Linked DNA regions of Homo sapiens: region 1 is linked to region 2. Evidence: fine-mapped expression QTL. A gene starts in region 2. The other region holds a variant in brackets. All regions are shown on one strand. Distances are between the middles of the regions.

Region 1 (15,607 bases), 540 kb before region 2:
GGAATATAAAACCTGCTTGCTTCTTTTTTCCCCCCCTCCAATTGCATGTTCTTTCTTTGCCACCAATGCAAAGTAGGAAAAAAACTCAGTTTTCCAGTGACATTAGCACATTTGACCCTGGCAGTTCAAAATAGGCATTAGCACCTCCATTTTCTATATGAGGACCCCAAGGCTCCCAGAGATGAAGCACCTCTTTGAGTCAGTCAGACCAGGAGACGAGAGAGCAGGGCTCTAGTTTCGGCTCTGCCACCAGTTTGCAGTACCACCTTAGACACGTCCCTGCCCCTCTCTGGGCCTCAGTTCTCCACCTGTAATATGGTGGGGGTTTGTGTATTTTCTGAGATGGTCTCTGTGATCCTGCCTTGCTTGATGCTATGGCAACAAAAGAATTCAAACAGCCCCTTGCTATTGCCTATCACTGGATCTTGTTTCCCTTTGGCCTGACTCCAAGAGCAAGCACTGCTTCCTTCTGCCCTCCCCTCACTCACTCCCCTCTGTTCTTCAGGAGACAATGCGGCCAGCCCCTCTCCCCTCCAGGCGGCTGGGCTTTAGGCCAGCCAGCCAAATGGCAGCTGGGACTCAGATGAAAGGGCCCTCAGAAGGCTGCTTGTGGCAGAGTGCCCAGCCTAGCCCAGCCCAGGCTTGGCAGCCTGGGGCTCAGCTGTGCCACGAGGCATCCTGTCCACCCGCTCCCATACAAGGCTCCCTCTGTGAGTCCTGCAGAGAAGGAGACCCCTGCCAACCCACAAGGACCCTCTTCCCCTCCCTCTGCTCCATACCTGCTTGAGAAATATGCAAGTCTGTAGAGAATGGTCCAGGACTACATCAGATTGATCTGACTGTGCCAGGCACTTTGGAGAGCTTTATCCCATTGACTCTTCAGAATAACGCTGATAGCAAGTAATGGTTTTTTTTTTTTTTTTTTTGAGACAGAATCTCACTCTGTCACCCAGACTCTAGGCTGGAGTGCAGTGTCACTAACATAGCTAACTGAAGACTCGACATCCTGGAATCAAGCAACCCTCCTGCCTTAGCCTCCCAAGTAGCTGGGATTACCGCTAACACCCAGCTAATTTTTTTTACTTTTTTGTAGAGATGGTGTCTCACTATGTTGCCCAGACTGGTCTCAAACCCCTGAGCTCAAGCAATCTTTCTACCTTGGCCTCCCAAAGTACTGAGATTACAGGTGTGAGCCACCATACCTGCAATCTCTTTTTATTTATTTGTTTATTTTTTAAAATTTATTTTATTTTTTTTGAGACAGGGTCTTGCTCTGTTGCCCAGGCTGCAGTGCAGTGGTGTGATCTCGGCTCACTGCAACCTCCGCCTCCAGAGTTCAAGCAATTCTCCTGCCTCAGCCTCTCGAGTAGCTGGGATTATAGGCACCAGCCATCATGCCTGGCTAATTTTTGTATTTTTTTTTTTTTTAGTAGAGATGGGGTTTCACCATGTTGGCCAGGTTGGTCTCAAACTCCTGATCTCTAGCGGTCTGCCCACCTCGGCCTCTCAAAGTGCTGGGATTATAGGCGTGAGCCACAGCACCCAGCCCGTAATCCCTTTTTAGAGAGGAGGAACACATATTTGCCTACTGTGTGTCAATCATGGCACCAGGCACTGGGGAAAGAGCAGTGAACCAGGGGACAAGAGCTAACCTCAAGGGGCCCATTGTCAGCTGTAATTGAATAACCACAGAAATGAATATCTGGTTTCACAGTGTGACCAGTGCTCTGAGAAGAAAGTGGAAGAAACTATAGATATGGATAGACATGCTAAAGAGCCCATAGGTAATGGTGGATCACAGATAATGGTGGCTCACAGATAATGGTGAACCAATGTGTCCTCCTTCCCTTTGGGAAGTCCCCCACTCCACCCAGGGAATTCTTTATTTAGAAGCAAGTCCCCTGAACTCTGGGAGCCTCATATTCTTCAGTTCAAAAATGGGAGTTTTGATGCCCCTACCATTTCTGGGAGGAATCTGGGAGGCCCTGTACTGTCAGTGCCAGGCACAGGGAGGCACTGGGAGGAAGTATGGCTGGGCTTCCTTCAAACCACTCCACTTGATTGGGTCCCAGCCCCAGCAAGCTCCTTTCTGGAGGGAGCAGGCAGCCAGAGCTTCTGGATAAGGTTAGAACCTGCTCAGTTTCAGCCTTGACTGGAAGAACAGAGAGCCTGGCTGGAAGCCAGGCATTTCCCCAGTTCACCAGCTCTTGGGTCTTTTAACCCCAAAAATGCCTCTTGCAAGGCACAGGAGTCAAGATGCCCAGGCTAGGAAATGGTAGTAAAAGGTAACCTTTGTTTCACAGGCATTATCTCATTTAATCTTCACAACAACCCTATAAGGAAGACTAAAGGAAGATTAAAACCACCCCCATTTTCCAGGTGATGAAATTGAAGCTTAGAAAGCCTATTTTGCTAAACCACGATTCAAATCCAGGCATTCTGGCTTCAGGAACTGCTCTGTTGTCCACACCCTGCCCTTCCAGGCCAGGACAGTACTGCCCTACTCCCAGCCTTGCCCTCTTTCCTCCACATCTTCTCTGGGAGAACATAAAGTGATCTACTTCTTTTTTTTTTTTTTTTTTTGAGACAGCATCTCAATTTGTCACCCAGTCTGGAGTACAGTGGTGCAAAGATGGCTTAATGCAGCCTCAACCTCTCAGGCTCAACCATGTCACCCCCAACAGGTACAGCACCATGCCCAGCTAATTTTTAAATTTTTTTTATAGAGCTGGGGGTCTCACTATGTTGCCCAAGCTGGTCTCAAACTCCTAGGTTCAAATCATCCTCCCACCTTAGGCTCCCAAAGTGCTCAGATTACAGGCCTATCCCATGATGCCCAACCATAGTCTACTTCAAATCTACCACTAGGCTGCTGTCAGACCTGGGGCCTCAGTGTCCTCATCTGCAAAATGAGGAGGGAAGAGTTGGGCTTGAGTATGGTTAAGATCCCTTCCAACTCTATCAGTCTTTGTTCTTTCTAGCATAAGTGGTGTCAGCATAAGCCCTTGAAAGGCATGAGGTACCATTTCCATTCTTAGGATTAGCCCCTAGAGCACACATGTGCAAAGACACTATGTGCACAAGAATGTTCGTTGCGTCATTGTTTGCAAAAGCAAAAGACCAGAAGCAGCCTAAATGTCCATCATTTGGGGACTGGTTAAATAAGAATATATCCATATAGTAGAACACTCTTCTATTATTGAAAATGAGGTGAATCTCTGTGGCTAATATAGGAAGGTCACCAAGATAACAAAGACAGGGGCAGGGCACGGTGGCTCACGCCTGTAATCCCAGCACTTTGGGAGGCCGAGGAGGGCAGATCACTTCAGGTCAGGAGTTCAAGACCAGCCTGGCCAACATGGTGAAACCCTGTCTCTACTAAAAATACAAAAATTAGCCGGGCATGGTGGCAGGCACCTGTAGTCCCAGCTACTCAGGAAGCTGAGGCAGGAGAATCACTTGAACCCAGGAGGCAGAGGTTGCAGTGAGCTGAGATTGTACCACTGTACTCCAGCCTGGGCAACAGAGCGAGACTCCTTCTCAAAAAAAAAAAAAAAAATTAGCCAGCTGTTGTGGCACATGCCTGTAATCCTAGCTACTTGGGAGGCTGAGGCACGAGGATTGCTCGAACCAGAGGTAGAGGTTGCAATGAGCCGAGATCACACCACTGCACTACAGCTTGGGTGACAGAGTAAGACTCCATCTCAAAAAAAAAAAAAAGATAACAAAGAAAATAATAGTGTGTGTGTATGTGTGTGTGTGTATATATATATATACACACATTATATATAATACATATATGCACACCATTGCATTTGCAACGGTAATTTCTGGAAAGATATAAAGGAGACTTAGTCATCATTACCTCTGGAAAGAGGACCAGGAATACATCATGGGACAAAAATTACTTTTTTGTTTCTGAAACAGGGTCTTGCTCTGTCACCCAGGCTGGAGTGCAGTGGATGCCACACCCAGCTCTTTTATTTATTTATTTTTTTGAGACAGGGTCTCACTCTGTCACCCAGGCTGGAGTTCAGGGGCGCCACAATCACAGTTCACCACAGCCTCAACCTCCTGGACTCGAGAGATCCCCCGACCTCAGCCTCCTGAGTAGCTGGAACTACAGGTGCATAGCACCATGCCTGGCTAGTTTTTAAATTTTTTGTAGAGACGAGAACTTCCTGTGTTGCCCAGGCTGAACTCCTGGGCTCAAGCAATTCTCACTGGCTTTCCAAAATGCTGGAATTACAGGTGTGAGCCACTGTGCCTGGAGGAAAATTACTTTTCATTGTATATTATTTTATACTGTCTTAATCTTTCTCTCTCTCTCTCTCTCTCTGCCTCTCTCCTCTCTCTGTTTTTCACCCAAACACTCTGTATGGGTGTTTCTTTCTTTCTTTCTTTCTTTCAAGTCATGTGTGGAGGACAGATTGTGCGACCTGGGTTCAAGTCCTGGCCTTGACATTAACTACATGGTCTTGTACAAATCTCGTCTTTTTGCTGGGCTAAGTAATCTTTCAGGTCCCTTCAGTGCAGAGGTGGGAACGGACAGCCCACGTGTTTTCAAGACAGTCTGAGTCATCCCCAAACAGACTATAGCCAAGCAGGGGACCCTGCTCACCGCGGCCTCAGTGATCTCAATCCCTCTTGCCTGAGTTTATGGGCCATGAGCTCTCCGAGGTACACTGTAGTGAACATGTGTAACATTTCCACCCTGCTTTTATTCACTCTCCTTTGTAAAGAACAACGGCTTTGCTTCGGGGGCCACCCTCTTCTTTACTCTCTACCGCCACCATCTTGCCACCATATGTAGCCTGAGATTGAAGTTAACCTACAAAGGAACATAGAACTAAGAGTTGATGAGAACCTGATTGCCGGCTATCATTTGAGCACTGATGAAGCTCTGCCTAAGGCCCTACCCCTGGAGTTTCCGGTTAGGTGACCGAGGGTTTTTCTTTTTGACTTACGCCACTTTACAATGGGTATATCTGTCACTTCTGGCATTCTAAAGAGGCCAGTGGAAGTGGAGAGCATGCTGTAACTCTTCTACCTGTCTCTCCAGATCCACTCCAGCCTTTTCTACTCTGGGAGGCTGATCCTTTTGGGGTGCATCCACAGGCTTCCATGCACCCTGGCTTCCAACTGAGTTTGGCCAATGGGAGCTTAGCGGGAGATCAGAGGCAAGAGGAGGCAGAAGCCAGAATATTCCTTCCCGGGCCCTCTCCCTGTCGAGTTCCTATACATTGGCTGCATCCCTCTTCTGAAGGTCCCAGCCCGTGATAGCTGTCTCCACACAGCTATCATCTCAGTTCTGCTAACTGCCCCCTTCCTCACCCTGTTACTAACCCTCAGGGTCTGCACTATCTCTTGTTACTCTCCCCAAACCCTGCCAAAGGGACTCTTTGTAAAGAGTCGCTTTATGGGCCAGGCGCGGTGGCTCACGCCTGTAATCCTAGCACTTTGGGAGGCCGAGGCGGGTGGATCACTTGAGGTCAGGAGTTCGAAACCAGCTCAGCCATCACAGTGAAACCCTTTCTCTACTAAAAATACAAAAAATTAGCTGGCCATTGTGTTGCGCACCTGTAATCCCAACTACTTGGTAGGCTGAGGCAGGAGAATCATTTGAACGCAGGAGGCAGAGGTTGCAGTGAGCTGAGATTGTGCCACCACACTCTAGCCTGGGCAACAGAGCGAGACTCCATCTCAAAAAAAAAAAAAAAAAAAAACAGTCCCTTCATGGCCGGGCACAGTGGCTCACGCCTGTAATTCCAGCACTTTGGGAGGTCAAGGGAGGCGGATCACTTGAGGTCAGGAGTTTGAGACCAGCCTGGCCAACATGGTGAAACCCCGTCTCTACTAAAATACAAAAATTAGCTGGGTGTGGTGATGGGTGCCTGTAATCCCAGCTACTTGGGAGGCTGAGGCAGGAGAATCACTTGAACCCAGGAGGAGGAGGTTGCATTGAGCAGAGATTGCACCACTGCACTCCAGCCTGCATGACAGAATGAGACTGTCTCAAAAAAAAAACAAAAGAGTCCCTTTATGAAAGTCTCCTGAAATACCCAGCTTGAGAGAGCTATCTATGTTCTGCCTGCATATCTATATGTGTTTCAAGTGTGAGTGTGAATGTGTGTGCACACATGTGCATGCATTGTGTCTATGCTGTACACTTGACAGTCTCAAACTGGGACAAGAGGGGAGCTGATTTTCACAGGTGCTCACCATGTGCCAGACTCCATGCAGGGTACTTTGTATGCACGATTGAGTTTCATCCTCACAATTCTATAAAGTGGGTATTTTTAGCCACATTTCACAAAAGATAAAACCAAGGCCCAGAGAGGTGAAGACACTCACCTAAAGTCCCACAGCTAAATAAATAGAGGAAACAGGATTCAAAACCCATATACATCTGGCTGTAAAGCCTGTGTTCTTTAGCCTCCTCCCGGCACTGCTTTCCCAAATGCCTGGCTCATTCTCATACTTTAGATCTCAGCTTAAATGTTACCTTTCCCAAGAGGCCTTCCGTGACCACTCTATTTGAAGGCTGTCATCAATGATTCTTTTTAGTAAGACATTACTTTTCCTTCAGGACATGCCTTTGTTTACTGAATGTCTGCCCCAAGCTCCATGAGGGCAGCCAGTCTCCACATCTGTGATTTTGTTCACCACTGTGATCCTGGTGCTGAGCACATGTGGCTGCTACATGCTAGGCCCCGGATAAATCGCTGCTAAGTGAAAACATGGCAAAGGAAAGGAACAGACATGTATTAATTGCCTGCCCAATGCCAGGCATTTTACACAGTTTGTCTTAGGAAGTACATGCTGTTGTCCCATTTTGCTAATGAGGAAACCAAGGCCAAAGAAGGAATATGACTTTCCCAAAGTCACGGAACCATGAGCCAGGGTTCAAAACCAGGTCCCTCTGAGCCACAGCTGTGCTCATTCCATGGTGCCCTCTGTCCCCTACTCAGGTGTCCACCACAGGATGAGAGGCAGAGGGGCCAATCAGTAAAACTCATGTGAATCATTCCTGGACAATCAGAAACTGGGGAGCAAATAGTGCCTGCTGCAACCACTCCCCCGGGGCCAGCCACTCTCAGACCTCGTGGGCACACGCCCTCCCAGCCCAGCCAGGACACATCCTCTTCCCTGTTTGCCCTCAGGCTCTAGGCCCAGCTCCACCTATTCTGTGACCTCCACAAACACTGTTTCTGGGCTCTCTTTGCAGGGCTACTTATGGCTGATAACTTGCTCTCCAAGCTCCCAAGGGCCAGCTCCAAGGCCCTGAGCACCAGGGACTGGTGCACTCCTGAGCCCTGTGAGTAGGCCAGTTCACCAGCTGGTGCCAATAAAGAAGGGACCTCCTGCTGAGCCCCCAGAACTATACTCATCCCAGGCTGGCACATGGGAGGACCTTTTCCTACCTCCTCCCTTTGCTTTCAGACCCTGCCCATGTTCCACTTTAAAATCACTGCCTCCAGCCAGCCTGGCCAAAATGGTGAAACCCCGTCTCTACTAAAAATACAAAAATTAGCCGGGTGTGGTGGTGGGTGCCTGTAATCCCAGCTGCTCGGGAGGCTGAGGCACGACAATCGCTTGAACCCGGGAGGCAGAGGTTGCAGTGAGCCAAGATCGCGCCACTGCACTCCAGCCTAGTCAACAAGAGTGAGACCCTGTTTCAAAAATAAATAAATAAAAAAAATCATTGCCTCCCTAATGGGAGGCTTCTGGGATGCTGAATAAAGTTCTTTTTCTTGAGCTAGGTGCTGGTTCCACAAGTGTGCTCACTTTGTGAATATTAACTTAGGTGCATTCCTCTGTGTGTAAGTTACATTTCAATAAAAAGTTGACCAAAAAAAAAAAAAAAAATCAGTGCTACCTGACTCTTGCCCCAGGCTTCCCCACCAGACCAGCATGGATTAAGGCACTCTGCCCCCCACACCATCCTTTCTCTCTACTTCCCCAAACATATCCAGAGGCCCTTCCCATGTAAGGGTTTCTGACTGAAAATTGGCCAGCAAAGACAGGACAGAACGAAGTAGCCAACATGGGCAGCGTCCCAAGTCTTGGGACCTCGGGTGTCCTGTTCCTGGTGGACAGCTCCTCCTGCCTTCTCTGAGACATCTTTTGAAGCCCCATAGGCCTTTCCCTGGTCCAGTTCGAGTGAGAGGTTCTCGCATCCTCTCCCTATTCTTACCCCAAACCTCTTTCTCAGGCCATGCTGATGGCCTCTGGCCTGCAGGGCCAATTTTCTGGTGCCCAGGACCACGTGCAAACAATTATTGTTTACCAACTGTCCACTGTCACTCAGAAGGGCATCTCCCATGGCCTGGACCCAGGACCTCTCCCAACTTGTCCTCCTTGGGTTCCTGGAGAGGAATCAACCGCACCCCATCTGGCTCCCCGCTCACTGGCTCCCCAGCCCAAGTGCGTAGGCCCCAGCTGGTTACCCCAAGTGAACAGCTTCTCCACCATCTCACACAGCCCAGACACCTGGACCCAAGAGAGGGGGTGACCTGCATACCTAATGGGTGGTGGCAGCAGAACTCCCCACAGCAAACACAGCAGGGGTGTCAGAGAGGGATCCTGGGGACAAGCAACAGAGGCCAATGTCACCCCCTGAAACAGAAAGAGAATTTCTTAGAAGACTATCAGTGTTCACAAAGGACGAGGACCAGGAGTTCAGAGGGCCCAGGCCAGGAGCCTGACTGGAGCCACACTGCAGAACTGGATGGCTACTGCTGCTGTGGTCACGGTCAGGCCCGGATGTACCAGGGGCTGCCAGCAAAAGAATCCCATCTCTTGCAAGGGATTCCATAGCGGGAGCAAGGGCCAGGAATTGGCGCCCTGCCTAAAACTCATGGGAATTTCCCCAGAAGGGAGAATATGGGGCTAGGAGGGAAGGAGTAGAGTCTGGACTTTAGATTA[C/CAA]AAAAAAAAAAAAAAAAACACAAAAAAACAGGTGTCTCTGACCACAGGGTTGGGCTGAACTGAATTTCAAGAGGACCTTGAACTGGGACAGGGTTGGTGCCACCCCTACTACATATATATCCACTAACAAAACTTGAATCATGCCATTTAAAATATTTATTTAACCAGGCCAGGTGCGGCAGTTCATGCCTGTAATCCCAGCACTTTGAGAGGCCGAGGCAGGCAGACCGCTTGAGCCCAGGAGTTCAAGACCAGCCTGGAAAATGTGGAGAGATCCCATCTCTACAAAAAATACAAAAAAAATAAATAAAATTAGCCAGGTGTGGTGGTGTGCTCCTGTAATCCCAGCTACTCAGGAGGCTGAGGCGGGAGGATTGCTTGAGCCCCAGTAGTTGAGGCTGCAGTGAGCCATGATCTCACCACTGTACTCCAGCTTGGGTGACAGAGCAAGACTCTGTCTCAAAAAGAAAAAAAAAAAGAAAAGATTTATTTAAACATGTATGAGCCTGGGGCAACATGGTGAAACTTTGTCTCTACAAAAGAAAAAAAAATAGCTAGGCATGTTGATATGTGTCTGTAGCCCCAGTTAATCAGGAGACTGAGGTGGGAGGATCACTTGAGCCCAGGTGGTTGAGGCTGCAGTGAGCCAGTCTGGGAGACAGAGTGAGACCCTGTCTCAAAAAAAAAAAAAAAGTGTACTCATTTTTTCCACCTGGTATCGTGACGATTTCCCCCATATGAAGGGCTCTTCTGTACCACTTTTTAAAATGGCGACAGAGCATTGTGTTGTATGAATGTATCATAAATCTACTAAGCCACATTTTACTTCTTTCTTCTCTCCTTCCTTCTGTATTTTTTCTCTCTTTCTCTACTATAATAGTGCTGCAGTGAGCATCCTTGATAGCTAAGGCACTGTGCAAGGAGTAGGCACTTTTTTGAGCTCTTATTCAGTGTTTCCAAATTACTAAGAAAGCTGTGCCCACCATCCAGGCACACAGAGTGTGGCTGCCCTGTTTATGTTTTTGCCCCATGTTCAGAGTCTGACCTCCAACAGACTTCCGGGGCTGCAGGCAAGGGCTGAAACCAGAGCTGGCCGCTGGCCAGGAGCTGAGAACCAAGCCAAGGCTGCCCCCGTTTCCCGTGTCATGTCTTCCTGGAATCTGAAGTACGGGCATTTTTTCTGGCTGATTCAAAGTACCCTCAGAAACTCACTTCCTGCTCCATGTTCTTTTTCCTTTCTCCTGTCTTCTCCTTCTCTCTTCCTTGTCTCTTTTCTTTCTTTCTTTCTTCTTTTTTTCCTTTCTGTTTCCTCTTTCTCCCTCCACTTCTTCCTGTGTCTCTTCTCTCTTTAACTCTGCTCCTCTTTCTCTCTGGCTCTTTTCTCTTTGTGTGTCTCTCTGCTGTTTTCTTCCTCTTTTGCCTTCTTTCTGCACCTTTTAATTTTCTCCGCCTGGAATCCAGCCTCATTTCTGTGTCTTTTCTCTGTCTCTTCGGTGGCTGTCTGTCCTCCATCCACCACTCCTGTTCTGTGAGTCATCCCTTCCCCAGGGAGAGAAGGCAACCAACATTCTCCTTGCTAGGCCTTGATTTTTTATTTTATTTTATTATTTTTTTTTTTTTGAGATGGAGTTTCACTCTTGGCCCCCAGTCTGCAGTGCAATGGCGTGATCTTGGCTCACTGCAACCTCCGCCTTCCGGGTTCAAGCAATTCTTCTGCCTCAGCCTCCCAGTAGCTAGGACTACAGGTACGCATCACCACGCCCGGCTGATTTTTGTATTTTTAGTAGAAATGGGGTTTCACCATGTTGGCCAAGCTGGTCTCCAACTCCTGACCTCAGGTGACCCGCCCGCCTCAACCTCCTGAAGTGCTGGGATTATAGGTGTGAGCCACCGCGCCCGGCCACTAGGACTTAATTTGAATGGAAGGTGATTTTGCCTCTCACAAAGGACAAAGCTAACAGATCTCCGAAGTGGGAGTTGCCTGGTAAGCCAGGTTGACCCAGGCACTCTGGGCTTCAAGGATTGGGAGACACACAGTCTGTCAAGCTTCCATTAGAGGCTCTATCACCCCAGGGGCCAGCACACTGGGTCTGATGACTCACCAGGGCGGCACTGGCGCAGTGGCAGCAGGATGTAGGTAGGGGCACTGGAGTTTATGATGTTGCTGCAGGGAGCAAACCTACTGTGTGTGGGTGGGCTCAGGGCTGGATGCTGGAGACCCAAGAACACAGCAGACCCAGTCTGCATGAAACTGAGAGACTGGACTAGCTGGATTTCCTAGGCCGACTAAGAATCCCTAAGCCTAGCTGGGAAGGTGACCGCTTCCACCTTTAAACACAGGGCTTACAACTTAGCTCACATGGGACCAATCAGATAGTAAGGAGAGCTCACTAAAATGCTAATTAGGCAACAACAGGAGGTAAAGAAATAGCCAATCATCTGTTGCCTGAGAGCACAGCGGGAGGGACGATGATCAGGATATAAACCCAGGCACTGGAGCCGGCAATGGCAACCCCCTTTGGGTCCCCTCCCTTTGTATGGGAGCTCTGTTTTCACGCTATTTCACTCTATTAAATCTTGCAACTGCACTCTTCTGGTCCATGTTTGTTACGGCTCGAGCTGAGCTTTCGCTCACCATCCACCACTGCTGTTTGCCACTGACTCCCATCCCTCCGGATCTGGCAGGGTGTCCTCTGTGCTCCTGATCCAGCGAGACTCCCGTTGCCACTCCCAATCGTGCTAAAGGCTTGCCATTGTTCCTGCACAGCTAAGTGCCTTGGTTCATCCTAATCGAGCTGAACACTAGTCACTGGGTTCCACGGTTCTCTTCCGTGACCCACGGCTTCTACTAGAGCTATAACACTCACCGCATGGCCCAAGATTCCATTCCTTGGAATCCGTGAGGCCAAGAAAGGCTTGCCACCATCTTGGAAGTGGCCTGCCACCATCTTGGAAGTAGCTCGCCACCATCTTGGGAGCTCTGTGAGCAAGGACCCCTGGTAAAAAAAACCACCTTCACAAAATTATCACAGTGAGAGGAATCTGACATGGCTGACTCCATCTTGCTTCTGGTGTCACAGGCTGACTGTCTTTGCTCATTCCTGGGCATATGCCAAGCTAACTTTGGGAGAAATTTCGTTCATAGTTTAAATGATAATGGCTGGACACGGTGGCTTACTCCTGTAATCCCAGCACTTTGGGAGGCCAAGCGGGATGGATCACTTGAGGTCAGGAATTCCAGATCAGCCTTGTCAACATGGTGAAAACCCATCTCTATTAAAAATACAAGAATTAGCCAGGCGTGGTGGCGCATGTCTATAGTCCCAGCTACTCAGGAGCCTGAGGCACGAGAATTGCTTGAACCTGGGAGGCGGAGGTTGCAGTGAGCCAAGATCCCACCGCTACACTGCAGCCTAGGCAACAGAGTGAGACTATCTCAAAAAGAAAAAAAAAAATAGAAGAAAGAGAAAAGAAAAATCCCTAACCTATGCGCTTTGAACGAGATTGATTTGAGTAATAACTCCATCTCCTACGTGGCATGGCCACCTTCGTGTTGAAGCAGCATCATTGTCTGGGGTAAATATCTGAGGTTCATTGCCTCATGCCAAGGAAATCAAGGACACGGACTCACACAAGGAGTGAGTTTAAGAGAGAAGTTTAATAGGCAAGAGAAAGGGAAAAGTTCTCTCTCCTGCAGAGAGAAAGGCTCCCGAGTGGGTCTTCTGGTTCTGTGGTGAAATGCATGGGGTTTTCTAGACGAGTTTGAGGAGGTGGTGTCTGATTTACATAGGGCACAAAAGATTGGTCAGACCCGGTGTGCCATTTATATAGCTTGCGAAGAAGCTGGCCACCCCACCCTAATTTTTCATTATGCAAATGATTTCCCTACCTGGCCGGTGCCATGTTGCCTGCTTCTTTACTGCACACATGGTTGACAAAGACAAGGGAAGAGGGGCTGGGCACCGTGGCTCACACCTGTAATCCCTGCCTTGGCCTCCCAAAGTGCTGGGATTACAAGTGATCCACCTGCCTTGGCCTCCCAAAGTGCTGGGATTACAGGAGTGAGCCACCGCACTTGGCCTCTGTTACACTTTTAAATGCACACACCCTATGTTCCAGCAGCCCAACCCCTGGCATTTTCTTCTACCAAAATACTCTCATGTGTACTATGTAGTAAGATATTTGTTGCAATGTTGCTTGTATTATCCACAAAATAGGAATATACTCAATATCCATTCATTAGAATGGTTAGATAAAATGATGATGTCTCTTGCTATGGAATAACTGTCATCGCTAAAAAAGAATGAGGTATTCAGATAAACCAAAAGTAGGTTAGTAGTGCTAGGATGACAGGTGTGAGCCACTGCACCCAGCCTGTGTGTGCTTTTCGTATGAAACAATTAAACATACTCAATAAAACAAATACCATCCTTGCTTGCAAAGAGCTCAGAATCAAGTGAGGGGATAGACTGAGACAGAGGGAATGCCAACAGAATCCTTCGTGACAGGGCTGGCACAAGCACAGTGGAGGGGCCCCCTGAACCAGCTCGTGGGGTGTCAGGGAAGGCCTCCTGGAGCAGGTGACATTTTGACTCGGGTCTTCTAAGACCAAAAGGTGTTGGTCAAGTGGAGAAGCAGGGGCAGGATTCTTCTGGTGGAAGGTGAGGCAAAGTGGTGCAGCCCACATGCAGCTGACAGAGAAGGAAGGGTTTCACTCAGGGAACTGATGGCAGCTTTGTCTTGGGTGGATCCTCTGAGGAAGTCTCTTCTGGCTCGAGGTGACAGACACCCTGAATAGCTCTTAGGGAAAGTCTGGAAACTAATACAATGTAAATGAAGACTTTCCAGTAGGCTCAGAATTTCAGCTGAGGCCCCAAAGGCAGAAACAAGGCCAGAGTTGCTGATCCTAAAGTGAAGCTGGACCACCCACCTAGGATTCCCCAGAAGGGAGAACAGAGTTAAAACCCACCTCTTCACCTACTTCCTGACCACAAAGAGAGGCGACATCCCCAGAAGCTGGAGGGGAAATTTCTCTGGACAGAGTTGTCAACGTGCTCCCTCAGCCTGTTCCCCAGCCCACACCCCAAAACAGGGAGTAGAGGGCGCTGCTCTCCCTCACCTCTAACCAGGTGAGCGAGGCTTTAGGAGAACTATCTGGGGAGTCTTGGAGGTGGAGACTCTGGGGTCTGGAATCTGCCTGGCACCTAGCAGGGTGTGGAGGGGCTGCTAGGAAGGGGCTGCACTGCCAGCTGTGTGCTTCCTGTGACCCACATGTGGACCCCGCAGAAAAATCTTCCTGAAAAGGACCTGGTGGAAGAGAGCTTCTATCTAGGGGTGAGGGGACTCCGGCAGAATGAGACTGGAGGTGTGAGGAGGGTTGTAGTAGCTGAGGGGCAGTAAGTGAGTATAACCCCCAGTAGGTTCTTCCGCCCACTGCACAGACAAAACCAATTCACTGAGACCACGCAGCATTGTAATAAAGATATAGTTTAATTGCCACAAGGCCAGCCATGCCGCACAGGAGACGGAGTTATTTCTCAAATTGTTAGCAGTAGTGAATCTGTACGGGTCTGTAGTAACCTCCATTCTTGCCTCCTCAGAGGAAAGAATTAGTCGGAGGGGCATAAGGCAGAGGGAGTGACCAAGGCAAGTTTTAGAGCAGGAGTGAAAGTTTATTAAAAAGTTTTAGAGCAGGAACAAAAGGAAGTAAAGTACACTTGGAAGAGGACCAAGCAGGTGACTTGAGAGATCCTTGTCCGGTTTGACATTGGACTTGGAGCTTTACACCTTGGCATGCTTCCGGGGTTTTGCGCCTCCCCTCCCTTGATATTTCCTTGGTGTGGGCTGTCCACATGCACAGTGGCCTGCCAGCACTTGGGAGGGGCCCGCATGTGTAGTATGTTTACTGAAATTGTTCACATGCTCATTTCAGGCATTTTTCTCTTACCAGTCAAGTGTTCCTAGAGGAAGGTCACACACAAGTTAAGCTGTGCCATTTTGCCTCGTAGGTGTGAATGCTCAAGCCCACTCACCCAACTCCTGAGATCTTTTTTTGAGACAGGGTCTCACTTTGTCACCCAGGCTGGAGGGCAATGGCACAAACACAGCCCACTGCAGCCTTGACCTCCCAGGCTCAAGCAATCCTCTTGCCTCCGCCCTCAAGTAGCTGGGACTACCAACACATGTCACCACGCCCAGCTAATTTTTTTGTATTTTTTGTAGAGACAAGGTTTGCCATGTTGCCCAGAGTGGTCTTGAACTCCTGAGCTCAAGCAATTGCCTGCCTTGGCCTCCCAAAGTACCAGTCTTAGGTTCTACGATAGTGATGTTATCTGCAGGAGTAATTGGGGAAGTTGCATATCTTCCCTCTGCCTCTGGAATAATGGTTGGCAATCGTTTATGTCTGCACCTTAGCAGAACTCAGGCTCAACATCCTCCTGACCTGGTTGGTCTTTCATTAGCTTTACAAAGGCAGTTGAGTTTTGGAGAAGGGCTGCTATCATTTAAACTATAAACTAAATGTCTTCCAAAGTTAGCTTGGCCTAAACCCAGGAGTGACCAAAGGCAGTTTGGAGGTTAAAGGCAAGATGAGGGTTGGTTAGATCAGATGTCTTTTGCGGCCCTAATTTTCTCACTGTTATAGTTTTTTCAAAGGCAGTTTCATAAGCAGCCCTGGGGG
Region 2 (14,878 bases):
TTTCAAAAGATTACTCAGGGGTCCAACGTAAACACTGGAGTAGGGAAGTGAGAAGCACTAGAGGTGAAAAACAAAAATCAAAGAATTCTTTTAAAAAACAAAACTCACCTACTGTCAAGGCCTGAATCTGCAACAACCTGAAGGCTTTCCAAAGATGACCCATCATTTACATGCAGGAACAAGACTTCCTTCTGGGATCGGACAGAACGAATCCATCCCTAAGGAAGAGAAATATTTCCAATGTGAGCGTAAAACATTTTACGTTTTCATTACACATACACACACAGACTAAATGAAAGTAAAACATGTACTCACAATCCTGCCTCAACAAATCAACTTCTTTTAGTTCACCAATATGCATACTTAATTTTATATGTTCCAATCACAATAGGATACACACTTTGGTATTCTATCTTTTGTTTTCGTAATAATGCACAACATTTCGAATGGATGCCTAACATTCCTTCATGTTGATGAGCCTAATTCATATAATCAATCCTCCCAATATTGGCAATTCCAGGTATTTCCTCCCAGAGCCCTGCCCTCTGGCCCAACAATAAATAACAGGGCACATATCTTGGTGCCTTTCTCAGGATGTGGGGTGCGCCCTTCTTTCTGGTTTCATCTCACTGCGCTGCCCAGAAGGCATCTCCTCTTTGGTGATTCTAAATCAACAGTAATTTCCAGGTTGGGCACAGAAATCTCAGCACTTTGGGAGGCCGAGAAGGACGGATCACTTGAGGTCGGGAGTTTGAGACCAGCCTGGCCAACATGGTGAAACCCTGTCTCTACCGAAAATACAAAAATTAGCCGGGAGTGTTGGCGCTCGTTTGTAGTCCCAGTTACTGGGGAGGCTGAGGCAGGAGAATCGCTTGAACCCACGAGGCGGAGGTTGCAGTGAGCCAAGATCGCGCCAGTGCACTCCAGCCTGGGTGACAGAGCAAGACTCCATCTCAAAAAAACAAAAAAACACAAAAACTAATTTCCAAACGACTACTTTCTTACTTTCACTTGTTAAAGTTAACATTTATTGAGCACTTTGTAATGTGCTTCTATTCTAACCTCTTTATAAATATTATGCTACTTAATCATCAGAAAAACTTAACGAAGTGGTTATCATTTTAGAGCTGATGAAACATTATTTAGAGATGTCACGATAACCTCTCTAAATAGTCCAGGACATAGTCACCGATTAGTAGAGTTGAGATTCAAAAGGAATTTCTTACTTCAAAGTTCATGTTCTTATCAACGAGCTTTTCTGGGATGCTATTATAATTCTGCCCCATCCCCAGCTCCTCTGCCTAGGGAACACATCTTTCAGGACTTGGCTGAAATATCACCTCATGCAAGATATCTTCCTTAACCTTCTCAGTTACGTAACTTCCTGTTTTCTTATAGTTCTTTACTTACCTTACTACCAACTATCCTATTGCTAAAATTATTTGTTTTAACCATTGGAGCAGGGCTGTCCAACAGAAACATAATGTGAGTCACATGTTTAATTTAAAATTTCTTTTTGTGGCCACGTTAAACATAAAAATAGATGAAATATTTCACTTTAACCTATTATGCCCCAAATATTATCAACATATAATCAATATAAAAACATATTGAGATATTTTGCATTCTTTTTGGTTCTTCAAAATTGGTATGTATTTTACACTTATAGCACATCTCAATTTGGACCAGACAAAGTTCAAGTGCTCAGAGCCAAAAGTGGCTGGTAGCTACCATATCAGACCTCACAGGACTAAACTGAAATCCTCTAACCTGGGCAGCAGGTTCTCTTTTCATCTTTGAATTTTCTCTTGACTAGCACACAAAGTATCATTAATGTATACCCAATCAATAGACCAACAGACCTATGGAAAGAATATGGAACTCAAAGAGGAGCAGATTGGTCATACCGCTAAAAAGTAAAGGATATGTGAGGACAACAGAAATCACTGCAACGGCAAGCCATGACTGTGTCAGTACAATCATGGGTGACAAAGCAAGAACCTACTCAAAAAATAAGTATTTATTATAACAACATCTACCAGGCTTATGCCTGTAATCCCAGCATTTTGGGATGCCGAAGGAGGAGGACTGCTTGAGTCCAGGAGTTTGAGACCAGCCTGGGCAATACAGTGAGACTCATCTTCACAAAAAACTTAAAAAATTATAGAGTGTGGTGGTGCATGCCTATAGTTTCAGCTACTCTGGAGGCCGAGGCAGGAGGATTGCTTGAGCCTGGGAGATGGAGGTTGTAGTCATCTGAGATCACATCACTGCGCTCCAGTCTGGGTGACAGAGCTAGACCCTGTCTCAAAAAATAAATAACCACATCAGTGTACTTCAGCAACCTAATAAGAAACAGTCAAACACCTTGTTTATTCTGCACCTCTTCTATGTGGAGCTGCTGCAAATAATATAATCAGCAAGAGAAACAATAGCAGCTAACATTTGTAGACTATGAGCCACTGTTCTAAATATCTTACTTCCATTACCTCATTTAATTTTCAGGACTCAGGGACAATTATTATCTCTTTCCATAAGAGGAAAATAAGGTGTAGAACGCATAAACGCTATGCAGAGATTTAAACCTAAGCAGCTTAACTCCAGAGCTCTTTCAAACTGCTACATTCCAGTCTTTCTCCGAATTCATTAAAAATAAATTACATGCAGACCCCCACAATAGGCACTGAGGTCGCTAAAAGTTTAAAAGGCATGGTTTGAACAAGTATTTGCTGTCAGCCATGTGTGAATACAAAGGCAGGTAAGACACGGTTTCTGCTCTCAAGGAGGGAGGTCAAGACAACCACTTTATAAACCTGGATATTCATTATAAGGGATAAAGATAGAGAAAGGGGGCTTGTTCATTTACACTTTTGGTATGATTAACAAGTTTACAGGTAATACCCTGGAATCATGAAAGCAAAGTTCCAGCGCTTTACAGTTATCGGAACAGTTTTGTGAAAAGTAATGGAAATCAGAAAAGTGCAAACCCGCGACGCCTACACTTTCTAACTTTTCCCTGCTGGCGGTTGTGTCTGACCCGACTGTAAAAGAAAAGCTAGATGTGGATGTGCCATATAAAAGTCCCTACAAGAAAAAACCCACTCCCTTCCCATTCACCAACCTGGATCTTAATGCGCTCCCCACTCGCGTTCTGAGCCCCGAGAGCGTCCCGCACGCTCAGTTTGGCTGAAGGTTTGTGCTTGGGGAAGGGGGCGGAGGAACAGAAGCGCACGGACCGCAGCAGGCAGCGGACCCCCAGCATCCCGCGTCCGCCCAGGCCCTCCGCGGGAGCAGCCCAGACCCCACGGTTCGAACCCCGCCTGCAGCGGCCCTCCTTTCTCAGCTGCTCCCCTTCCGCGGCCGCAGCTCTGCTCTAAGGCACTCCAGAGCCCCTCGGCTGCGCGCTTTCTCCTTCAGGACTCCCAGCTCTGTCCCCACAGAACCTCTCCGCTTCCCACTTCCCAACGGGGCGGAATGGACAGGACACTAGGCAAACGCCAGAAAGAAACCACGTGCAGTTGGCAGCTGGGGCGCCCCACTACCCGCGACAATTGTAAACCTACGAACAGAACCCGGGCCGCAACACGCGCAACCACTCCTACCACACCACGCCAACGCCGCTTACGTCATCACGCTACGGGGAAGAAGGGAGAGCATGCGTACTTGTGACCCAGGCTTAGGGAGGCGTGCGGGAGGGGGCGGGGTCAGGAGCCGAGACGGGGCGGAGCTAATGCCCTAAGGTTGTAGAGATTATCGCTGAAAGAACGTGGGAGCACATCTGAGGGTCTTCATTTCTAAAGTTTCCAGGTGAGGCTGAGAAACTGAGAGGCAAGGAGTGACTGATGGAGAGGGAAACCGTCTCCATCAGTCAACAATAGGGATCCAAGTAAGAGGAGGCTCTTAGCTGTTAACAGGATTCGCTTGAAGAGATCAGTCGTTCCTTTCCTGAGTACTCCGCAGAGAAAAATCAGACATAGCCCCAATGCGCAAGTCACAGTTGTGTGGTATCAGACAGCTAAACAGACAGTTGCATAAAAGGGCGATCAGTTTGCCTGACAGAGCCTAAGCGTGGGACGCCAGAGATGGCTTCCTGGAGAAAGTAGTCCTCTGACAGGTAAATAAAAGGAACTGGAGGGACCTTGCATATGGCAGGCAAGACGGTGGGAAGATGTTGCAGAGACTGGAGGAAACTCGAGTGTTTCCTGCCAGAATCCTCCAAGTCTCCCTCTTCCCTCTGCCCTCCAACACAGCTATCTGCATTTGTTTGACCTGGAAACAATGACCCTTTTATATATTAGGCTACGTTTTATTAAAAAAAAAATTCTGTAACTCAATGACGGTCATTAAAAGGTTTTTAATCTAATTTAAAAAGTAAAACGTTTGGCCAAGTGCGGTGGCTCACGCCTGTAATCCCAACTCTTAGGGAGGCAGAAGCAGGAGGATTGCTTCAGCCCAGGAGTTCAAGACCAGCGCTCGCCCTCGCTGTCTCTCTCCCGCTCCCTCTCACTCTCACTCTCTCTCTCTCACTTTTACCTTACTTAAAGTTGCTACTATTATTATACCCATTTTACAAATGAGAGAACTTACGCACAGAAAGGCTAGATGACCTACTTAAGGATACACATTCCCTAAGTGTGAGATTTAAACCCAGAAGTGCTGGCTCTATGCACTTAAGCAGTATGCTGTATTACATAGTGTCCCAAGGTGATCTGTTCCATCAAGGAGCTCATGCTTTAGAGATGGAGACAAGCAAGAAAAGAGACTACTGAAATATAAACCAGTAAGTGCACACATAGATGTATGAGTTGTCTGCATTTGTTTGGACTGAAAAGTCACCCTTATATATTAGGCTACCTCTTAAATTTATCCAAAAAATTATTTTTGATATTTTATCCAAATATTATATTGGATAAAATATAATACAATTATAATATATACATGTATCACAATTTTATATTTTATATAATATAAATGTGTTCCCTGGTTCTTTTAATAAATTAAAATTATAAATATAATAAAATTATAATTATAAATTATAATATATAATTAAATTATATTGGATATATTATATATTATATACTTATAATATAAAATATGTTGGATAAAATATAATATAGTCTAGAGAAGGAGAAAATTAAGCTGAATTTTTGAAGTGGATCAATATTTTGCCAGGTAGGCATGTAAGAAAATTTCCTGCCAGAAGGTGAACACGGAAGGTTGCCAGGAGGGCAAATGGCCTGGAAAAATTGTAAAATCATTCTTAAGACAGGCTAGAAAATATCTCATCTGAAAATACTTGATGTTGGAGGTGGAACCTAGTGAGAAGTGTTTGGATCATGAAGGCCTTGGTGCCACCCTTGCAGGAGTGAATTCTCAGTCCATTAGTTTTTGCAAAGCTGATTGTTGAAAAGAGCCTGGCACCCCCCTCCCTCTCTCTTCCTTCCTCTTTTGCCATGTGATGTTTGCTCCCCTTTGCCTTCCTGAATGGCTGAATGACAACAAACCTTGACATTATTTACTTTGAGTGGAAGCAGATTCTGGTGCGATGCTTCTTGCACAGCCTGCAGAACTGTGCAAATAAATGAATACACTTCTTATCGATCAAAAAAAATATATAGGCCAGGCGCAGTGGCTCACGCCTGTAATCCTAGCACTTTGGGAGGCCAAGGTGGGCAGACTGCCTGAGCTCAGCCTGGGCAACATGGTGAAACCCTATCTCTACTAAAATATAAAAAATTAGCTGGATGTGGCAGCATGTGCCTGTAGTCCCAGCTACTCGGGAGGCTGACGCAGGAGAATTGCCTGAACCTGGGAGGCAGAGGTTGCGGTAAGCTGAGATCACGTCACTGCACTCCAGCCTCAGCAACTGAGTGAGACTCTGTCTCAAAAAAAAAAAGAAAAAGAAAAGAAAAGAAAAGAAAAAAATACTTGGGCACTTCTTGAACCTTGAGAAAGGAAAAATGGAAACTTGCAGCCAATGCCTTCAGAATTATGCAGCTATGGACTTTTAAGGGAAAAAAAGTTCGCTCGTTCAAAATCTGGGGAACAAGACAGTCTGGGGTACATAACAATGATGTTTATCCCAGTGAAAATCTTTTCTTTGCCTATGCCTACCCTGTCCAAGTGATCAAAAGTAGTAACCAGTTGGCTCATTTCTTACTCATGCCATTTTTCTGTCTTGCCTTCTGCTATGGCTTGGATATGATTTGTTTGTCCCCACAAAAACTCATGTTGAAATTTAATCCCTGATGTGGTGGTGTTGGGAGATGAGGCCTAATGGAAGTGGTCTGGTGTATGGGAGCAGATCCCTCATGAGTGGCTTGGTGCTGTTTCCGTGGACTGCATGAGTTCTTGCAAGAATGGGCTTGTTTCCACCACAGTAGGTTGTTATAAGGCCAGGATGCCCCTCAGGGGTTCCCCTTTTTGCACATGTCCACTTCCCCTTTGACCTTCTTCACCACGTTGTGATGCAGCACGAAAGCCCTCACCAGAAGCCAGGGCCATGCCCTTGAACTTCTCATCGTGTAGAACCATGAGCTAAATAAACCTCTTTTCTTTATAAATTGCCCAGTGTCAGGTATTCCTTTACAGCAACATAAAATGGGCTAAGGCACCTTCTTTCTCTCCCAACTCCCCTACTCCAGGGAACAATGTGCAGCTTAAGAACTGGAGTCTGAGTCCCAGGGAGTGAGGCTCCTGCCTTCCTTTACCCTCTCACTACTTGTTTAAGCCAAAAGGTTAATTATGTTCTTAGCAGGGGACCACTGCCCCAGTATGTTGAAGACAAGAGAAAAAGTTTACTATACAACTTACGCTTCTGGTGCTCAGTTCAAACCATCCCCTGTATCTTGTGCTATATCAAATCACATCATCTTCTTGTTTATTTTTGTTTTCAGTGTTGGCTTGACACCTTCCCTTTTAGATTCATCACCTTCCAGACAGGAGTGCAAATGATGTTTTTAATATGAATATATAGTTGACCCTTGAACAACATGGGTTTCAGTTGTGCCGGTCCACTTGTATGTGAATTTTTTTCAATAAATATATTGGAAAATTTCTTGGAGATTTGTGACAATTTCAGAAAACTTACTAATGACCTGTGTAGCCTAGAAATATCAAAGCATTTAATAAAAAGGTCATGAATTCACAAGATACATGTAGTTACTAGTCTATTTTATCATTTACTATCATAAAATATACATAAGTCTATGACAAAAAGTTAAAATTGGCTGGGCGCAGTGGCTCATGCCTGTAATCCCAGCACTTTGGGAGGCCGAGGCATGCAGATCACTTGAGGCCAGGAGTTCAAGACCAGCCTGGCCAACATGGCGAAACCCCATCTCTACTAAAAATACAAAAATTAGACAGGCATCGGCCAGATGCGGTGGCTCATGCCTGTAATCCCAGAACTTTGGGAGGCTGAAGTGGGTGGATCACCTGAGGTCAGGAGTTCGAGACCAGACTGGCCAACATGGTGAAATCCCGTCTCTACTAAAAATACAAAAACCAGCCAGGTGTGGTTGCAGGTGCCTGTAATCCCAGCTACTGGGGAGGCTGAGGCAGGAGAATTGCTTGAACCTGGGAGGCAGAGGTTGCAATGAGCTGAGATCAAACCACTGCCCTCCAGCCTGGGCGACAGAGCAAGACTCCATCTCAAAAAAAAAAAAAAAAAAAAAAAAAAAGAAAAACGAAAAAAAATTAACCAGGCGTGGTGGCACATGCCTGTAATCCCAGCTACTCAGGAGGCTGAGGCAGGACAATTGCTTGAACCTGGGAGGCGGAGGTTGCATTATGTCACTGCACTCCAGCCTGAGCGATGGAGTGAGACTCTGTCTCAAACAAAACAAAACAAAACAAAACACCCACGGACCTTGCATGGTGCTATTCATAGTTGAGAGAAATTGCTATAAGACATGCAACCTTAAGCTTTAACAAATAGGGCCAAATTTTTTCCAAAGTGTCACCAGTGTGACCAGCCATATATGAGAGTTTCAGTCGCTTTACATTCTTGTCAACACTTGATCTTTTTTTAATGTGGAACACTTCATAAATATATGTGTCATCCTTGAACGGGCCACGCTAATCTCTGTAACCTTTCAATTTTAGTATATATGCTGTTTAAATGAGAATAATACTTGGTCTTAATCAAACTTGCTCTAGCAGCCGTATTGGTGGGGAAGTGGTTGTATCCACTGCTGTTTTAATTTGCATTCCCCTGATTATTATTTTTGTTTGGCAGCTTTTCAGTGTTTATTTTCATTGGACTTTCTTCTTGGTAAATTGACTGTTTACATCTTTTGCCCATTTTTCTATTGAAAAATGAGTAGTCTTATTTTTCCTAAAGACTACTTTTATTGAGTAGTCTTTTTTCTTATTAATCTATATAAGTTCTTTTGTCCATGTTTTAGTTACGAGTTCTTCTCAGTTACATGCATTGCAATATTCAACCACTCTGTGGGTTGTCTTTTCTATGGTGTATTGTGAGAAAATGGCTGAATGACAGCAAATCTTGAAAATATTCGATCCTTTTCTTAAGAAAGAGTGAATAGTTCTTGAAGAAAATTATTAAGACATTCAAGCATTAGTCTTTATATTTCTTCTGGCAATGTAAGACCAGTGCTTTTGCCATGTCTCCTGTTATTCTTTAGAAAATGGTTTCTTTTCCTAATTTATATTTCCTTACATTTTTTTGTTCTTGTTGCACGGTTAATGACCTTCTCCACAATTTTTATGTGGTGATCTTCAAGGAACAATTTTAAAGTTTAGAATTCCACTGTACATTGTTGGAGACTGATTCTGGCTGTTTGCAAATATTTTTGTATATGATTAACCTCTAGTTTACACCGGAAAACAAGATAACTCAAAAAAGAAAAATCATATATTTTCTTTTGAATTACACAAAACTTCAAAGGTTGAGATTCGCGTTTTAAAATTTCTCTTTATTGCTGCTGGGTGCCATGGCTCACGCCTGTAATCCCAGCACTTTGGGAGGCTGAGGCAAATGGATTGCTTGAGGTCAGGAGTTTGAGAGCAGACTGGGCAACATGGCAAAACCCCATCTCCACCAAAAATACAAAAAATTATCCAAGTGTGGTGGTGTACACCTGTGGTCCCAGCTACTCAGGAGGCTGAGGTAAGAGGATCACCTGAGTCCAGGAAACGGAGGTTGCAGTCCATGAGCTATCGCACCACTACACTCCCACCTGGGTGTGGTTGACAGAGTAAGACCTGTCTCAAAAAATAAAATAAAATAAAATTTATCTTTATTGCATACACAGTGTATTAATCCATTTTCATGCTGCTGATAAAGACATACCCAAAACTGAGTGATTTATAAAGAAGAGGTGGGTTTTTTTGTTTGTTTGTTTGCTTTTTGTTTTTGTTTTTCTTTTTTGAGATGGAGTCTCGCTCTGTCACCCAGGCTGGAGTGCCGAGGCAAAATCTCAGCTCACTGCAACCTCCACCTCCCAGGTTCATGTGATTCTCCTGCCTCACCCTCCTGGGTAGCTGAGATTACAGGCATGCACCACCATGCCTGGCTAATTTTTGTATATATGTATTTTTAAATAGAAATGGGGCAGCACCATGTTGGCCAGGCTGGTCTCAAACTCCTGACCTCAAGTGATCTGCCCGCCTCAGCCTCCCAAAATGCTGGGATTTACAGGCATGAGCCACTGTGCCCAGCAACGAAAAGGAGGTTTAATGGACTCACAGTTCCACGTGGCTGGGGAGGCCTCACAATCATGGCAGAAGGCAAAAGGCGTGTCTTACATGGTGGCAGACAAGAGAGAGAACTTGTGCAGGGGAACTCCCGTTTATAAAACCATCAGATCTTGTGAGACTTATTCACTGCCATGAGAACAGCATGGGAAAGACCTGCCCCCATAATTCAATTACCTCCCACCGGGTCCATCCCATGACATATGAGAATTGTGGGGAGCTACAATTCAAGATGAGATTTGGGTGGAGACACAGCCAAACTATATCATGCAACTTCATAATGAGCACTCTGTCTTATCCTTTTACTATTACATCTATATTATCCAGCATTTTCTATTAATGAGACAGAAAAGAATGGACAATTGTTTCCAGTTTCCAAAAATGTTATAAGTGAAGAAAAACTGCTTCTGAAACAGTAAACTCTACAAACGATCAGATTATTTTTTAGGGGGTAGTACTTTATAACTAATATAGTTTAAGTTTACAACTGTGAACAAAAACTTGATCGACCTTTGGTCAGTATTATTATTGTATTAAAATTTTCTACAAATTAAACATTTTTAAAAAGGAAAAAAATGTCTACAGTCCCACATCCCTTTATTGCCTGCACCGTGGGCAGATTACTCTCACTGCCCCACTCTTGGTATGTCTCTGCTGGCAAGTATGATATTTTCTGTAAACTTTTGGCAAATACTTTGTCACCTAAGAAAGTTCCCTGCTGTTCCTGAGGGATTACTACTCACCCAGTATATGGTCAGCTCTAACTACATAATGTCATGAGGAATGAAGGATATATTTGGAAAAGAATGTAGTGTGATTAACAATCTGTAAATTCTAAACTTGAGAAAGTTTTATTCCTATGGCAAAGAATCTGGAAAAGATGTTTTCCTGAAATCCGTGCAGCCATCAGCATTCACCATTGGTCTAAAACTAACAGACAATCCTATAAGCACTTAAAGACACAGAAAGGAGATGAATTTATGCACTGGTTTTTCAAGCAGGAAGATAATTAACGATGACTCTGTACATTTGTTTAAACTTCTTTCAGAAGAGGCTTGTGAAAGGTATATTAGAACGACAATGGCAAGCTGATTCTACTTTTACCTGGATGTTTCCATTAATAGGTGTATTCCTTTAGCAGAACATTCTTGAATTCCACCAATCCCTGTGAACGATAGTAAAGAAGAGTCACAACATGCTTTCCCTGAAAATGGATTTATCCTACTCTTTTCAAGCTTTACTTTCAGACTCATGTGCATTGACAGACACTAAAAAGGTAAAATCTTTATTTTCAATGTATTAAACGATTTAACATTTCTTACTAGAGTATGATATACAGTATATCAGGAAAGAGTATGACATATATGCACTAATCGTAAATTATACAAAAGTCATTGATTCAACTCCCATTTTTGTAATATTCTAATGTTTACTAACTTGGGAGAAGCCCAACAAAATTATAAAGTTTAGTTTACTTTTCTTATTGACTGGTTATGGTAGCCAGCCTTTAAGATGGCCACAATGATTCTTGCTTCCTGGTATTCACACCCTTGCATAGTCTTCTGTGACATTAGTCATATAGGATTAGTTTATGTAACCAGAAGAATACAGCAGATACGCTGGTGTGTGACTTCTGAGGACAAGTCATAAAAGACATCACTCCTTCTGCTTTCCTTTCTTGGATCACCTGCTCTGGGGGTACTAAGTCCCATATTGTAAAGATAACTAACCCTAAGAAGATGTCAATGTGGCAAGAAACTGAGGCATCCTGCCAATAGTCAGGGCCACTTTGAGATATGTGCATAAATCATCTTAAAAGCAGGTCCTCTACCCCTGTCAAGCCTTTGGATTACTATAGCTCCAGCTGATCTTGACTGCAACCTCATGAGAGACCCCTAGCTAGAATCACCAAGCTAAGCCATCCCCAAACATCTGACCCACAGAAACTGTGAGAATAATAAATATTTACTATTGTATTAATGCATATGTTTTGGGATAATTTATTATACAGCAATAGCCGACTTACACACTAGATAAATGTATCTCTCTTCAGTTTAATGTGGAACATTGGCCCTCACTAATTTTCCCCTCTTTTCTCCCAGGATAAGACACACTATTGTTAATAACACTGGCTCATAGTGGTAGAAGGGGTGGGGAGTAGGGGGATAAATCTGAATTCCTTGAGATTCCTTCTAGAAAAGAAAAACACAATTTCTTAACACTCAGATACTCTTCCTTAGGGAATATAAGAATTTCCTCCTCATTCTCTGGGAATCAGTGATGTGAAATATTAACATACAGTTGAAAAACAGGTTTTCTCCTTAAAATCCAGTTTCATTGTAGATATTTCTGACAGTGTGAGTACATCTACTGCTGGCAGTGTAGGGCTTGGCTTTAAAACTGGACTTCTTTGAGAAAAGCAAGGGAGGCTTGTATCCCTTTCAAAAGAAGAAAAAAATGGTCTGTCACATAGTTATATTGGAAGAGAAGCCATTGAGATAAATGCTAAAGTTTGTACAAATATACTGCATTTGCTCATTGCTTCTTTCTATCCCTTGGTTTGAGTTCTACATTTTAGAATAATATAGAAAAACTTTTTATTAACTTTATAAGGACTCTGTGAGTATTTGAATTACTATGCCCTAAAGTTAAACATCTCTGTTTTATTATCCACTGTCCAGTTAGCATTGGAGCTCCCATCTGTGGCTGGAACCCTGTGTTTCCTGGAATCCTCTTCCATTTGTGATTCCAGATTGGTTTTCCAATAAGAGAAACTCATTAGTTTTTAAAGCAAAAGACATTCTCCTTAGAAGGTAGTGGTGGTTGGTCATGGCAACTTCCTCAGGCTCAGTAACTTTACAGGCATCTCCATTTTGTTTTTCTACTTTTGCAAATATATGTGACATGGTGAAAAAGTCTAATATTCACATAATTTGAGTTTCATAAGGAGAGTAAAGAGAGACATAATTAGAACAATACTTGAAGAGATCATAGCCACGAATTTTCAAAACTGGTAAAAGACATCAAACCACAGACTCAAGAAACTCTACAAACACAAGCAGGATAAAAAACAAAAAACAAAACACTCTATTCCTAGGCACATAGTAAAACTCCTGGAAACAAAAAGAAAAGAGAAAATCTTAAAAATAGTTTCACTAAATTCAAAGGAGTAATAAATAAGACAGACAGCTGACTTTTCAAAAGCAATTATGGAACCAAAAGACAATAGTGGTATCTTTAAAATTCTGAAAGAAAATATCTGCCAACCTAGACTTCTATACCTGAGAAATATCCCTCAGTAGTGAAGGTTAAATAAAAGAGGTTTCAGATAAACAAACGCTAAGACAGTTTATTATTAGTAGACCCACACTACAGAGGTCTTCAGGCAGAAGGCAAATAATCCCAGAGAAAAGTGTGAAAACTCATGAAGGAATAAAGAACAGTGGAGGGTAAAAGTGGGTAAATCTAAACAAATATTGACTGTATAGAACAATGATAACAATGTCTTGTGAGGCTAAAAATACATATAAAATTAAATATACAACCCCAATAGCACAAAAATCAGGAAAGAGGTAAATGAAATTAAAGCATTGTAAGATCCTTGCATTGGATGGGAAATAGAAAACTAGTTTAGAGTAGATTTTTATTATATCAAGAATGTACACTGTAATAATTACTATAAACAGAAGAATGGGTAATAAATTATGGTATATTTATGTAACTAGAATCAAAATGAGTAGAATACTGCTACACACACCAATAAGGATGACACTCAGCAGGCATGGTGGCTCAAACCTGTAATCTCAGCACTTTGGGAAGCCCATGTGGGCAGGTCACTTAAGCCTAGAAGTTTGAGATCAGCCTGGGCAAAATGGTGAAACCCTGTCTCGACAAAAAAAAAAATAATAATGATAAAATAAAATAAAATAGCTGGACATGGTGGCATGTGCCTGTAGTCCCAGCTATATGGGAGGCTGAGGCAGGAGGATGGACTAAGCCCAGGAGGTCAAGGCTGCAGTGAGCTGTGTGTGTGCCACTACACTCCAGCCTGTGTGAAAGAGCAGAGCTTGTCTCAAACACACACACACACACACTCTCTCTCTCTCTCAAAAAGGAAAAAAAAGGATGACGCTCATGAACATAAAGTTGAGAGGAAAAAAAGCCAGACACAAAAGAATACATATTGTATGATTCATTTATGTAAAGTATTCTAATGGAAAAACTAATCTATAGTGATAAAAGCCAGAAAAATACTTAACTTTAGGGAAAGAGTGGGAGGAATGAAAAGGGAGGCTTCTGGGTGATGGTAATTTCTACTTCTTGATCTGGAAGGGAGGTAGATATATGGGTGTATTCACTTTGTAAACTTCATTATTTCTATGCTTTTATGTATATAAACTGTATGTTAAACTTCAATTAAAAGTTTACTTTAAAAATACTATGTTCAGGCCAGGTGCAGTGGCTCATGCCTGTATTCCTAGCACTTTGGGAAGCCGAGGCAGGAGGATGGCTTGAGGCCTGGAGTTCAAGACCAGCCTGGGTGACATAGTGAGAGCCCATTTCTGCAAAAAAAAAAAAAAAAAAAAAAATTTTAAATGAAATAGCTACGCATGGTGGTGCACACCTATAGTCCTAGCTACTCTGGCTAAGGCAAGAGGATTGCTTCAGCCTGAGAGTTCAAAGTTACAGTGAGCTATGATCATGCCACTGCACTCCAGTCTGGGCAACAGAGCAAAACTCTGTCTCTTAAAAAAAAATTATGTTGGTTGTGCAGTGAGCAGGGTAAAATAATTCTGGCTTCACCATGTACTAGCCAGGTCACTATGGGCAAGGACTTTTGCTGTCATAGGTAAGGGATGAGTTACTTCTGTGAGACGGAGATAATATTTGCCTCACAGGGTTGTCAAAATTAGCAAATGAAATAATCTATTAGACATTCCATAAGCTATGTTTATTTCATCATTAAGACCAAAGGGTATGCACTTTTATCATCCTCATTTTATAGATAAGGCAGCTGAGAGACAAGAGTTTAAGTAGGTTGCCCAGGGTCCCTTAGATGATAAACAGCAAATATTAGGATTCAAACTCTCATAGTCTGGTTCCAGAATCTTTTCTTTTGCTCACTATGTGAATGTCATAAAGACATAGATTTTTTATT

Which allele goes with the higher level. Positions count from the first base shown, and alleles are read on the strand shown. Sizes are in standard deviations (SD) of each study's normalised expression.
For the expression in skeletal muscle of the gene that starts at base 3,638 in region 2, allele C in region 1 goes with a higher level than allele CAA (moderate effect, 0.75 SD a copy in FUSION).

The links. PIP is the estimated chance that this variant, and not a neighbour inherited with it, causes the effect.
Region 1: its variant is fine-mapped to the expression of NARS2 in skeletal muscle (FUSION, PIP 0.95).

Annotation. Positions count from the first base shown.
Region 1 is chr11:78,030,140-78,045,746 of GRCh38, forward strand. NDUFC2-KCTD14 (NDUFC2-KCTD14 readthrough) reads right to left here. Exons shown (of 3, transcript NM_001203262.2): 2 at 8,525-8,619. The coding sequence ends at 8,525. It also overlaps a transcript of KCTD14 not described here. Among named protein-coding and RNA genes, the nearest start is that of KCTD14, 15 kb to the left of the region's middle. RefSeq lists enhancers at 97-609, 9,449-10,405 and silencers at 1,731-1,800, 6,904-7,198, 10,042-10,101. The variant C/CAA (reference allele first, on the strand shown) is at 8,929.
Region 2 is chr11:78,571,227-78,586,104 of GRCh38, forward strand. It overlaps NARS2 (asparaginyl-tRNA synthetase 2, mitochondrial), which reads right to left and starts at 3,638. Exons shown (of 14, transcript NM_024678.6): 1 at 3,122-3,638; 2 at 109-218. The coding sequence starts at 3,262. It also overlaps the pseudogene RNU6-311P and the pseudogene COPS8P3. RefSeq lists enhancers at 3,024-3,133, 3,794-3,933.